Linked DNA regions of Homo sapiens: region 1 is linked to region 2. Evidence: fine-mapped QTL for protein levels in blood plasma. A gene starts in region 2. The other region holds a variant in brackets. All regions are shown on one strand. Distances are from middle to middle. Region 1 overlaps PALM (paralemmin). Region 2 holds the start of PALM (paralemmin).

What was found. PIP is the chance, under the fine-mapping model, that this variant and not a neighbour inherited with it causes the effect. The UK Biobank Pharma Proteomics Project read protein levels with antibody pairs (Olink). The fine-mapping took linkage between variants from a reference panel, not from the people measured, so its PIPs are less certain.
Region 1: its variant is fine-mapped to the plasma level of the PALM protein (UK Biobank, PIP above 0.99).

Annotation. Positions count from the first base shown.
Region 1 is chr19:719,680-725,039 of GRCh38, reverse strand. All of the region lies in intron 1 of PALM (paralemmin), which reads right to left. Among named protein-coding and RNA genes, the nearest start is that of PALM, 13 kb to the right of the region's middle. The variant C/T (reference allele first, on the strand shown) is at 2,875.
Region 2 is chr19:705,789-711,148 of GRCh38, reverse strand. PALM (paralemmin) reads right to left here and starts at 2,214. Exons shown (of 9, transcript NM_002579.3): 1 at 1,998-2,214. The coding sequence starts at 2,002. RefSeq lists a silencer at 2,968-3,204 and an enhancer at 2,657-3,217.

The DNA.
Region 1 (5,360 bases), 14 kb before region 2:
GCTGAGGTGGGAGAATCACTTGAACCCGGGAGGTCGAGGCTGCAGTGAGCCGAGATCGCGCCACTGCCCTCCAGCGTGGGCAACAGAGTGAGACCCTGTCGCAAAACAAAACAAAAGCAAAACCACAGCTGCTCACGCCTGTAATTTTAGCACTTTGGGAGGCCGAGGTGGGAGGATTACTCCAGCCCAGGAGTTCGAGACCAGCCTAGGCAATCTAGTAAGACCCCATCTCTACCAAAAATAAAAATAAAAAATATTATCAAGGTGTGGTGGTGTGCGCCTGTAGTCCCAGCTACTCGGGAGGCTAAGGTGGGAGGACTGCTTGAGCCTGGGAGGTCCAGGGGGCAGTGAGCCATGACCCCACCACCCTACTCCAGCCTGGGCAGCAGCATGAGGCTCTGTCTCAAAAATGAATGAATGGCCGGGCGCAGTGGCTCACGCTTGTAATCCCAGCACTTTGGGAGGCTGAGGTGGGAGGATCACCTGAGGTCAGGAGTTCTAGACCAGCCTGCCCAACATGGTGAAACCCCCGTCTCTACTAAAAATACAAAAATTAGCCAGGCGTGGTGGTCGGCACCTGTAATCCCAGCTACTTGGAGGCCGAGACAGGAGAATGGCTTGAACCCAGGAGGCAGAGGTTGCATGAGCCGAGATCGCGCCACTGCACTCCAGCCTGGGCAACAGAGCAAGACTCCACCTCAAACAAACAAACAAACAATAAATGAATGAATGAATACCACTGTTGCCGGATACGCCTGAAGGGACCGGGCTTCAGGCTTCAAAGATACAGGGCCCTTTGTGGTGTGGGAAGGAGGTCCAGAAACCGAAGCCCTCGCCACCCCCACCAGGCACCCACCACACGCTCACTCGCCCAGGAAAGAACCGAGGAATTCTGTGGTTCTCTGACCTCCCCACAGCAACCTCGCCCTGCAGCTCCAGAAGCTGGTGCAGAGCCCCTCTCCTCATCTGTCTGCAGCCCCGTGGTTCACACGGAGTTCAGGGCACCCCCACCCCACTGCTTTCTCGCTTCCCCTCCCACCTGCTAGAAGAAGAGCTTTGCCACCCAAACCCTCCCCTCCCCTCCCTGGTCTGTGGGCCCTCAGAAAGCTGCACGTAGTAGGTGCTTAGTAAAATGCAAAAAGCAGGCCGGGCGCGGTGGCTCACGCCTGTAATCCCAGCGCTCTGGGAGGCCGATGCGAGCGGATTACCTGAGGTCGGAAGTTCGAGACCAGCCTGGCCAACAGAGACGGTAAAACCCCGTCTCTACCAAAAAATACAAAAATTAGCCGAGCGTGATGGCAGGCACCTGTAAAACCAGCTACTTGAGGAGCTGAGGCAGGAGAATTGATTGAACCCAGGAGGCGGAGGTTGCAGTGAGCAGAGATCACGCGCTGCACTCCAGCCAGGGCAACAAAGCGAGACTCCGTCAAAAACAAAACAAAACAAAACAACAAAAAGAAAAACGCAAGGAGCACCGAGCCCTAGACTGGGGCTGAGCTTGGCCTTGACCTTCCCAGCGACCCTCAGGCTTCCAAGGCTGTTGCAGCGAGGCAGGGAGAGGACGGTAGGGGTTGGCGGTGGGTGTCCCAAGCTCTGGGCGGCATCAACAGGGGGAGGCCCAGGCTGACGGGCAGGGCCTGGCGGGAACCAGGGGTGAGGGGTGGGAGACAGGTTCCCCCGACCCCCAACATCTTATCTTCCCAGAGACTGAAATTACAGCCTGCCCTTCGTGTCTGCTGCCACCCCCAGCCCTCTCAGCCTGGTGTCAGGGCCCAGAGCCAGCCCTGCCTCCAAAGAGCCCTCGTGCCTCTCTGGGCCTCAGTTTCCCCATCCACGCAAACACGGAGGCACAGATGCCTGCAGCTCTAAGGCCTCCTATGACGTCCCCCTTGTGCCCCCATCCCCTCCCCCAGTTCAGCAGAGAAAATGAAACTGCACAGTGCACTGGCTCACCCCCAGCCCCGCCTGGGAGGCTGCTCCGGGTCAAGACCTCCCTGGAGCCCGAGGCGCCCCGCCTGCCCACCCCACTCGGGTTTGGTTTCCTGGCCCTGCTGAGGCCTGTGAAGTTGTCCAGCTCCCATGCCCCAGAGGTGACCCCACCGGCTCCTCCCTTCCTGGCAGGTGACACCTACCCTTCCCGGTGCCTCCCAGGGGCCCGGGAACACCAGCTGCGCCCTCTGTGGCTTTCCCTTCTCCCTCCTCAGGGAGGCTGGGTTCAGCTGCCTTCACCGGGTGGGGTTCAGGAAAGGCTTGATCCAGCTTTCTGGCTTGGGGGCCCTTCCTGAATAGCCAGCTCAGCTGGAGTTCTCGGTCAGCCCCAGCAACGGGTGATGCAGGCAGTGAACCATCCACTGTGCGTTCCCTTGAGGCCCGGGCCCTCGCTTCCTGCCTACCCCAAGTTCCCCACCCTAGCCCAGGCCTCTAGTGTTCCCTGCCAACTCCCTGCCCCCTCACAGCTCCCTCTCCACCCGCCAGCCAGAGGCAGCTTCTCAAAAAGAGAATCAGACCCTAGGCCAGGTGTGGTGGCTCAAGCCTGTAATTCCAGCATTTTGGGAGGTGAAGGCCAGTGGATCGCTTGAGCCCAGGAGTTCGAGACCAGCCTGGGCAACATAGCAAGAGCCTGTCTCTACAAAAATAACTAACTAACTAAATAAATAAAAAGCCAGGTGTGGTGGTATGTCCCTGTGGTCCCAGCTACTTGGGAGGCTGAGGTGGGAGGATCACTTGAATCCAGGAGGTTGAGGCTGGGTCGAGCCGTGATTGTGCCACTGTCTCCAGCCTAGGTGACAGAGCAAGACTTTGTCTCAAAAATAAAAATTTAAGGCCGGGTGCGCTGGCTCACGCCTGTAATCCCAGCACTTTGGGAGGCCGAGG[C/T]GGGCGGATCACGAGGTCAGGAGATCGAGACCATCCTGGCTAACACGGTGAAACCCCGTCTCTACTAAAAACACAAAAAATTAGCCCGGCGTGGTGGCGGGTGCCTGTAGTCCCAGCTACTCGGGAGGCTGAGGCAGGAGAATGGCGTGAACCCGGAAGGCGGAGCTTGCAGTGAGCCGAGATTGCGCCACTGCACTCCAGCCTGGGCGACAGAGCGAGACTCCGTCTCAAAAAATATATATTAAAAAAATGAAAATTTTTAAAAATGGGCCAGGTGCAGTGGCTCACGCCTGGAATCCCAGCACTTTGGGAGGCCAAGGCGGGTGGATCACCTGAGGTCAGGAGTTTGAGACCAGCCTGACTAACATGGAGAAACCCCATCTCTACTAAAAATACAAAAATTAGCCGGGCATGGTGGCACATGCCTGTAATCCCAGCTACTCAGGAGGCTGAGGCAGGAGAATCACTTGAACCTGGGAGGCAGAAGTCACGGTGAGCCGAGATCATACCATTGCACTCCAGCCTGGGCAACAAGAGAGAAACTCTGTCTCAAAAAACAAAACAAACAAACAAAAAATTTTTTTAAAATTAAAAAAAGAAGGCCAGGCACGGTGGCTCATGCCTGTAATCCTAGCACTTCGGGAGGCCAAGGTGGGCAGGTCACTTGAGGTTAGGAGTTTGAGACCATCCTGGCCAACAAGGCAAAACCCAGTCTCTACTAAAAATACAAAAATTAGCTGGGGGTGGTGCCAGGCGCCTGTAATCCCAGCTACTCGGGAGGCTGAGGCAGGAGGATCACTTGAACCCGGGAGGTGGAGGTTGCAGTGAGCCGAGATCGTGCCACCGCACTCTAGCCTGGGGGACAGAGTGAAACCCTATCTCAAAATAACAATAATAATAATAATAATTAATCAGACCCTGTCCCTCTCCAGCTCTAGAGGCTCCCTGGCTCCCATCAGCCCTTAGAGGAACCCTCAGGTCGGCCCCTTCACTTCCCCCGTTGGTCTACTCCTGCAGGGCCCCCTGGCTATGCACCAAGCCTCCTACCCCAGGGCCTCTCACACACGGTTCCCCCTGCCCGGCACCTTCTTCCCATGGCTGGAAGCCACGTCCAGGGAGGGCACAGCGTGGCCCTGGGCACAGCCAGATTGGAACAACAACCGCCCAGCCCCGGGCCACCCCACAGTCCTGGTTTCCAGCTCTAAGTGGGCTCGGGGCCACCCCGGAGGGAGCAGAGCTGGGGCGGGAGGTCCACAAAACGGCGGAACTCCTGGGCCCCAGGATCAGGCTGGTCGCCGACTGCCCAGGTCCCCACCCGGCAGGCAGGTGGCCGCTCAGACCGGACCCGGGGACAGAGTGTGGCTGTGTGGCCGCCTCCCAGGCTGGAGACAAGGCGGTAGTGTCTGGGGCAGCCTGTCCCTGCCCGGCCGGCCAGGGCGGGGGAATGTCAGGCGGGCGGGCAGGGAACGCGCGGGAAGCAGCCCCAGGGCGCAGGCCCCTCCCCAGGACGCGCCCCCCTGGCCCCCGCAGTCACGGGCGCCCCCCTCGCCCCTCCCCAGACCCGGCGCCCCCCTCGCCCCTCCCCAGACCCGGCGCCCCCTTCACTCTCCCCAGGCCCGGGCGCCCCTCTCGCCCCTCCCCAGACCCGGCGCCCCCCTCACCTCTCCCCAGGCCCGGGCGCCCCCTCGCCTTTCCCCAGGACACGCAGGATGCGCCCCCCTTGCCCCTCCCCAGACCCGGCGCCCCCCTCGCCCCTCCCCAGACCCGGCGCCCCCCTCGCCCCTCCCCGGGCCTGGACGCCCCCTCGCCTTTCCCCAGGACACGCAGGATGCGCCCCCCTCGCCCCTCCCCAGACCCGGGCGCCGCCGCCCCGGTGATGGATGGAGGGGCCCGCGGGAGGCGGTCGCCGTGGCAACCGCGCCGTCCCCATGGCAACGCCGAGGCCCGGCGCGCGGGGGTGGGGCCGGCGCAGCATCTCCCGCCCCCGGCCTGTGCTTGGGGGGATTGGGGGGGGCCGAGGCTTCGGGCCTGGGGCGGCCTAGACGGGCGGGAGGGGTCGGGAATTTCTCCCCCGCGCTGCGGCTGGGGGAGGGGAGGGGGGTCCCCGTCTGGGCGTCCGGGGGGCGCCCGCCCAGGAAGGGGCTTCCATCCGGGAGGGGTGTGGACCCGCCCCCGACGCCGGGTAGCCAAGGTCAGGCCGACAGAACGCTCCACGTCACAGATTGGAAAAATTAAGCGAAATATGACCACGACGCACGGATCAAAACGGCCACAAACCGAGAACGCCTCCCCCAGCGCTCGCTCCCTCCTGCGGCCGGGTCAGCCCCATTTCACCGACGGGGAAACTGAGGCCGGGCAGGGCGGCCTTCTCCCGGCGTTCATCCTCCTGCGGGCGGGGCCCGCCAGGCGCGGGGGAGTCTCATTCCCGTGTGATCGGCGAGGCTGGGACCAGGACCCCGGCGCAGGGGTCACGGAAGGAAGCGGAG
Region 2 (5,360 bases):
CTCACATTAACAAAAAATAACCTGTTCTTGAATGACATTTAAAATTCTTTAAATTCTTAAATTCATTTGTGAAACTTTCCAGCGAGACGGGCACCACCACAAACCACAGCCAGCTCCCGTGTCTTCGACTGGAAAATCTGTGGAAACGGGAGGAGGCAAGCGATCACGTTCTAGCGGACGGGGCCTTCGTGCCTGAAGCCCGCCGGGGAGAAGAACGAGGGGGCAGGTGTCCAAGGCCGGGCGGCACCAGATGGGCCTGTCCCCACCCATTGTCAGCCCGGGAACCGGGGAGAGAGTCGTCCTCGAATGGCGGCTCACAGCAGCCGGTTAACACTGGGTGCCTGTCCCATGTCTGCATCCCCAAAAGCAATGATGACCCAATGGGGGACCTGTGGGCCACCCTCTGACCCAGGACGGAGAAACCGTGGAGCAGAGCAGGAGGCACCGAGGCCCCCCGGCCCCAGGTGCTGTGTGATGGAGGGGGGGTGGGGGGGGGGCAGCAGCTCCTCTCTGGGCCTCAGTATCCCCCGTGGGAAAGGAAGGGGTGGCAGGAAGGAAACAATGGGCCCGACCCGGAGTGTTCGCTGACACCCCTCCTCTGGGAGGGAGATCTCCGTCGTCCTCCTAGGCAGCCCCCTCCCCACAGCCACACCCTGCCCAGGCCTGGCTGTCAGAGGCCCAGAGGCTCCTCCGGGGCCTGGCGAGCAGGGCAGATAAACAAGGCTGGGGGGTGGGGGTGTGGAGCAGGCAAGTCTGGGCCCTGGCTCCCCTGAGCCCCTGGCTGAGCTCCCGGGGCGGGGTGACGGGGAGAGGGGTCAGGCCTTTGTCTGGGTTTTCAAAAGCAGAGGACACTGGGTGTCTCGCTTTCCCAGGGAGGGAGGGAGGCAGCGGCCCCCACCCAGCCGCGGGCGTGGCGGGTCACGGGTGAATCCCCGGGGAAAGTTGGCGGCTTAGAAAACACGCCCAGTGGGAAGGGCAGGGGGCCACAGGCGGCCTCCAGATCCGGTCTTCGGTCCTCGGGCTGGGGTGGGGACCCGGGCCTCAGCAGGGCAGCTGGCTCCCCTGTCCTGAAGTGGGCAGGTGGGTGACCCCAGGAGGAGCCTCCTGACCCCTGCCCGTGCAGTGCCCACCTGTGGGAGTGAGGGGCAGAGGGGCACCCGAGCACCGGGAGGAGGGGACCGGTGTCCGAAATGACCACGCGCCCTCGCTCGGTGCCTCCACTGGCCACCCCCCCCCCACACACACAGGCGCAGCCATGCGGGGGTCCAGGGATCCCAGCCCAGGGCCAGCCCACTCCTGTAGCTACACCAGTGGAGCCCCAGCTCCGAGACACTTCCCCGAGAGGGTATCCCACCCAGGCGCCCCGCTGGAAAACGCCGGTTCCTCTCCCTTCTCACACACCCCAGAGACCCGGGAAGCCGAGGGCAGCCCCTCTCCCTCCAGCGGTAACTCGGGACCTGCGCAGTGGCGGGGGGCTCAGGACACCCCTGGAGGCCCTTGGGAAGGGCGGGGGTGGGGGGCACCGGCCCGCGCGCGCGTCCAGGGCGCCAGGAGCCGTGCGCTCAGACTGGGGCGGGGGAAGGGTGCGTGAGCGCGAGGCCGGACCGGTGCAATCTGGGGAGGGGTCGCTCCATCTCCCCGGGGCCACCCACAGGTGGCCGAGAGCCGAGGCTCGCCCTGGAGACGCGGGCGGGGCGCGGGCGGAGACGCGAGCCTCCCCCTCCCCGCGTCCTGGACTGGCCCGAGCCGCCGCTGCCCGGGTCCCCACGCGCCGGTGGGTGGGCAGCCGGGGTCCGGGAGCGGGGAGGCCTCCCGGCAGGCGCGGCCCAGCCCGAGTCTCTTCCCGGCTGCGCTGCGGCCCCAGCAGCCCCGCGCCGCCTCCTGCTCCTCGCGGGGGCAGCGACGCCCCCAATGGGGCGCGAGAGAGGGGGCCTCCCCCCTCCCCGGCTCCCGGAGCTCCGGGCCCCCAGCCCCGCGGCCCGAGCGCGCCTACTCACTCCATCTCCCCGCCGAGGTCCGGGTGGGTCCGCGGTGCCGGGCGGGGGCGGGCGCGGGTGGCGCGCGGGGGAGGGGAGGGGAGGGGGACGCGGCCTGGCGGGGGCCGGGGCGGGCTAAGGCCTGGCGGCCGGGGCTGCGCGGCGCGGGGGCGGCGGCACCGGCTCGGGCATCGCCCCGCGCAAAGCTGCTGTTTATTGTCCGGGCGGCGGCGGGCGCGGGGGGTGGGCTGGGCGCGCGCGTCTCCGGCGCGCTCCCCTCTCCCTCCCGCCCGCCCCGCTCCCCGCCCCGCTCCCCTCCCACCTCCCCGCGCTGCGAGCGGGCGCTGCGCCTCCTGCCGGCTGCGCCGCCGCCGCCCCCCGCCCCGCGCGCCCCGCCCCGGGGCACCCCTGAGAAGGGCCTAGGTCTGGGCGCGGTGCTGGGACCCGGCTGTCACCAAGTCCCGCCCCTCCCCAGCTCCTGGGCCAGAGCCGGGACCCTCGCGAAGTCAGACAAGCAAAGGCCTTTCTCGAGAGCCCAGACGCCGAGAGGGACACACATTTCAGGGCGAGCGAGGGGATAGGGGGGTCCTGGGGAGGCCGCTGCGAGGAGCTGACAGCTCCCTGCACCCCCGGCCCCGCTCGCAGGGTCCCCAGGCCTCCTTTGCCGGAGTATCTGGTGGAGGGCGCTGTGCCTGCAAAGGCCGGGGGTTGGGGTGGAGACAACCGCAGGTGCTGATCTGTCTGTGCCCTGGCTGGGAGCTGAGCCTGGTCCCCGGGGCTGGAATTTAATCGGCCCCAGGGCCCCCATGGCACACTCACTAAAGGCCCAGCGACCAGACGACCAGAGTGAGTGAGAGGGACGGTGGAGAATCAGGGAGAGCTCAGGCTTTGTCCTCAGAGCACTGGGGAGCCACAGCAGGAGACAGGCAGGACCTGTCTTCCCCAACATGTAGGCCTTGGGCCCAGCTTCCTGGTTTCCCGTGAGAACACTGCAGACCAGCCCCAGCACACCTACTCATGGGGGTCCAGGGTGGGCAGGAAGGAAAGATTCTTCCAAACTTCTTAGTTTTCTTATAAAACGGTTCTCCTCTGCCGATGTTTGCTGAATGGCTGTAGATTTAAAGGAAAGTAGCCCCGGATGAGCTGTGGAGAAAGATACGGCAGGATGTACCCCAGGCTGAAGAAGGCCGTCAACACCTTTTCTTTATTCCTCCCTTTTTACAATGAATGTGTATTCATTTTAGCATTTAAGACAATAAGATAAATTAGCAAAGGTTAACAAAGCTAAGATCCTAAAGAATATCAGGGGTCCCGGGTCTGTCTGATTCCCAGCTCACCCATCTCCAAGCTGTGTGACCCTGGGTCTGTTTCTCAACCTCTCGGAGCCTTATTCCCCCCCACCCCCCTGCCCCCACCCTTAAGGCTGTGGGAGGGTTAACTGAGTGAGCACACACAAAGGGCTTGGCACAGGGCCCAGCACACACTAGCTCAGGGTTTGGCAAACTTTTTCTGTAAAGGGCCAGAGAGTAAATATTTTCAGCATTGCAGGCCACAGTCTCTGCGGCAATGACTCTGCTCTGCCATCGCAGAGTGAAAGTAGCCAGAGACAATATGTAAAACCATGGGCATGGCTCTGTGCCCATAAAACTTTATTTACAAAAACAGGCAGTGGGCCAGAGCTTATCCCAGGGCCGTAGTGTACTGACCCCTGCACTAGGCACCCAATAAAACTTTATTTACAAAAACAGGCAGAGGGCCAGAGCTGATCCGAGGGCCGTAGTGTACTGACCCCTGCACTAGGCACCCAATAAAACTGACCTGTGAGTCGTTTCTTCACTTCCCCTTGGCCTCTGTGTTCTTTTAGTCCAAAGTGATTTATTGAACACCTACTGTGTGCCTGGCACCGTTAGTCACCTGTGATGCAGAAGTTCCATTTTTGCGGCCAGGCGCCGTGGCTCACGCCTATAATCCCAGCACTTTGGGAGGCTGAGGCTGGTGGATCACGAGGTCAAAAGTTTGAGACCAGGCCGGGCGCGGTGGCTCACGCCTGTAATCCCAGCACTTTGGGAGGCTGAGGCTGGTGGATCATGAGGTCAAAAGTTAGAGACCAGCCTGGCCAACATGGCAAAACCACTTCTTTTTTTGGCTGGGGTGGACGGAGTTTCGCTCTTGTTGCCCAGGCTGGAGTGCAATGGCGCGATCTCGGCTCACTGCAACCTCCGTCTACCAGGTTCAAGCAATTCTCCTGCCTCAGCCTCCCTAGTAGCTGGGATTACAGGTGTGAGCCACCACGCTCGGCCAGTGAAACTCCTTCTCTACTAAAAATACAAAACTTAGCTGGGCATGGTGGTGCGCGCCTGTAATCCCAGCTACTGGGGAGGCTGAGGCAGGAGAATGGCTGGAACCCGGGAGGCAGAAGTTGCAGTGAGCAGAGATCGCGCCACTGCACTCCAGCCTGGGTGACAGAACAAGACTCCATCTCAACAAAACAAAACAAAACAAAACAAAAAAGAAGTTCTGTCCTTGGAGAGACGGTGATTTTTGTCCCCTACATAAATGATTCAGGGTGAATGAAGTGACTGTTACATGTAATCCCAACACTTCAGGAGACTGAAGCAGGAGGATCACTTGAATCCAGGAGGTGAAGACCCTGGGCTACCTAGTGAGACTTCCATTTCTACAAAAAATTAAAAATTGGGCCGGGCACAGTGACTCACGCCTGTAATCCCAGCACTTTGGGAGGCTGAGGTGGGCAGATCACCTGAGCTCTGGAGTTCGAGATCAGCCTGAGCAACATGGAGAAACCCCGTCTCTACTAAAAATACAAAATTAGGCGGGCGTGGTGGTGCATGCCTGTAATCCCAGCTACTCCAGAGGCTGAGGCAGGAGAATCACTTGAACCTGGAAGGCGGAGGTTGCAGTGGGCCGAGATCGCACAATTGCACTCCAGCCTGGGCAACAAGAGCGAAACTCCATCTCAAAAAAAATAAAAAATAAAAAATAAAAATTAGCTGGGCACGGTGGTGTGTGCCTGTGGTCCCAGTTACTTGGGAGGCTAAGGTGGGAGGATCGCATGAGCCTGGGAGGTTGAGGCTACAGTGAGCCGTGATCATGCCACTGCACTCCAGCCTGGGCAACAGAGCCAGAACCTGGCTCAAAATAAAATAAATGATTCAGGGCCAGACACAGTGGCTCACACCTGTAATCCCAGCACTTTGGGAGGCTGAGAAGGGAGGATCACTTGAGCCCAGGAGTTTGAGACCAGTCTGGGCAACACAGAAAGACCCCATCTCTACAAATTTTTTTTTTTTTTTGAGACGGAGTCTCGCTGTCACCCAGGCTGGAGTGCAATGGTGCGATCTCGGCTCACTGCAAGCTCTGCCT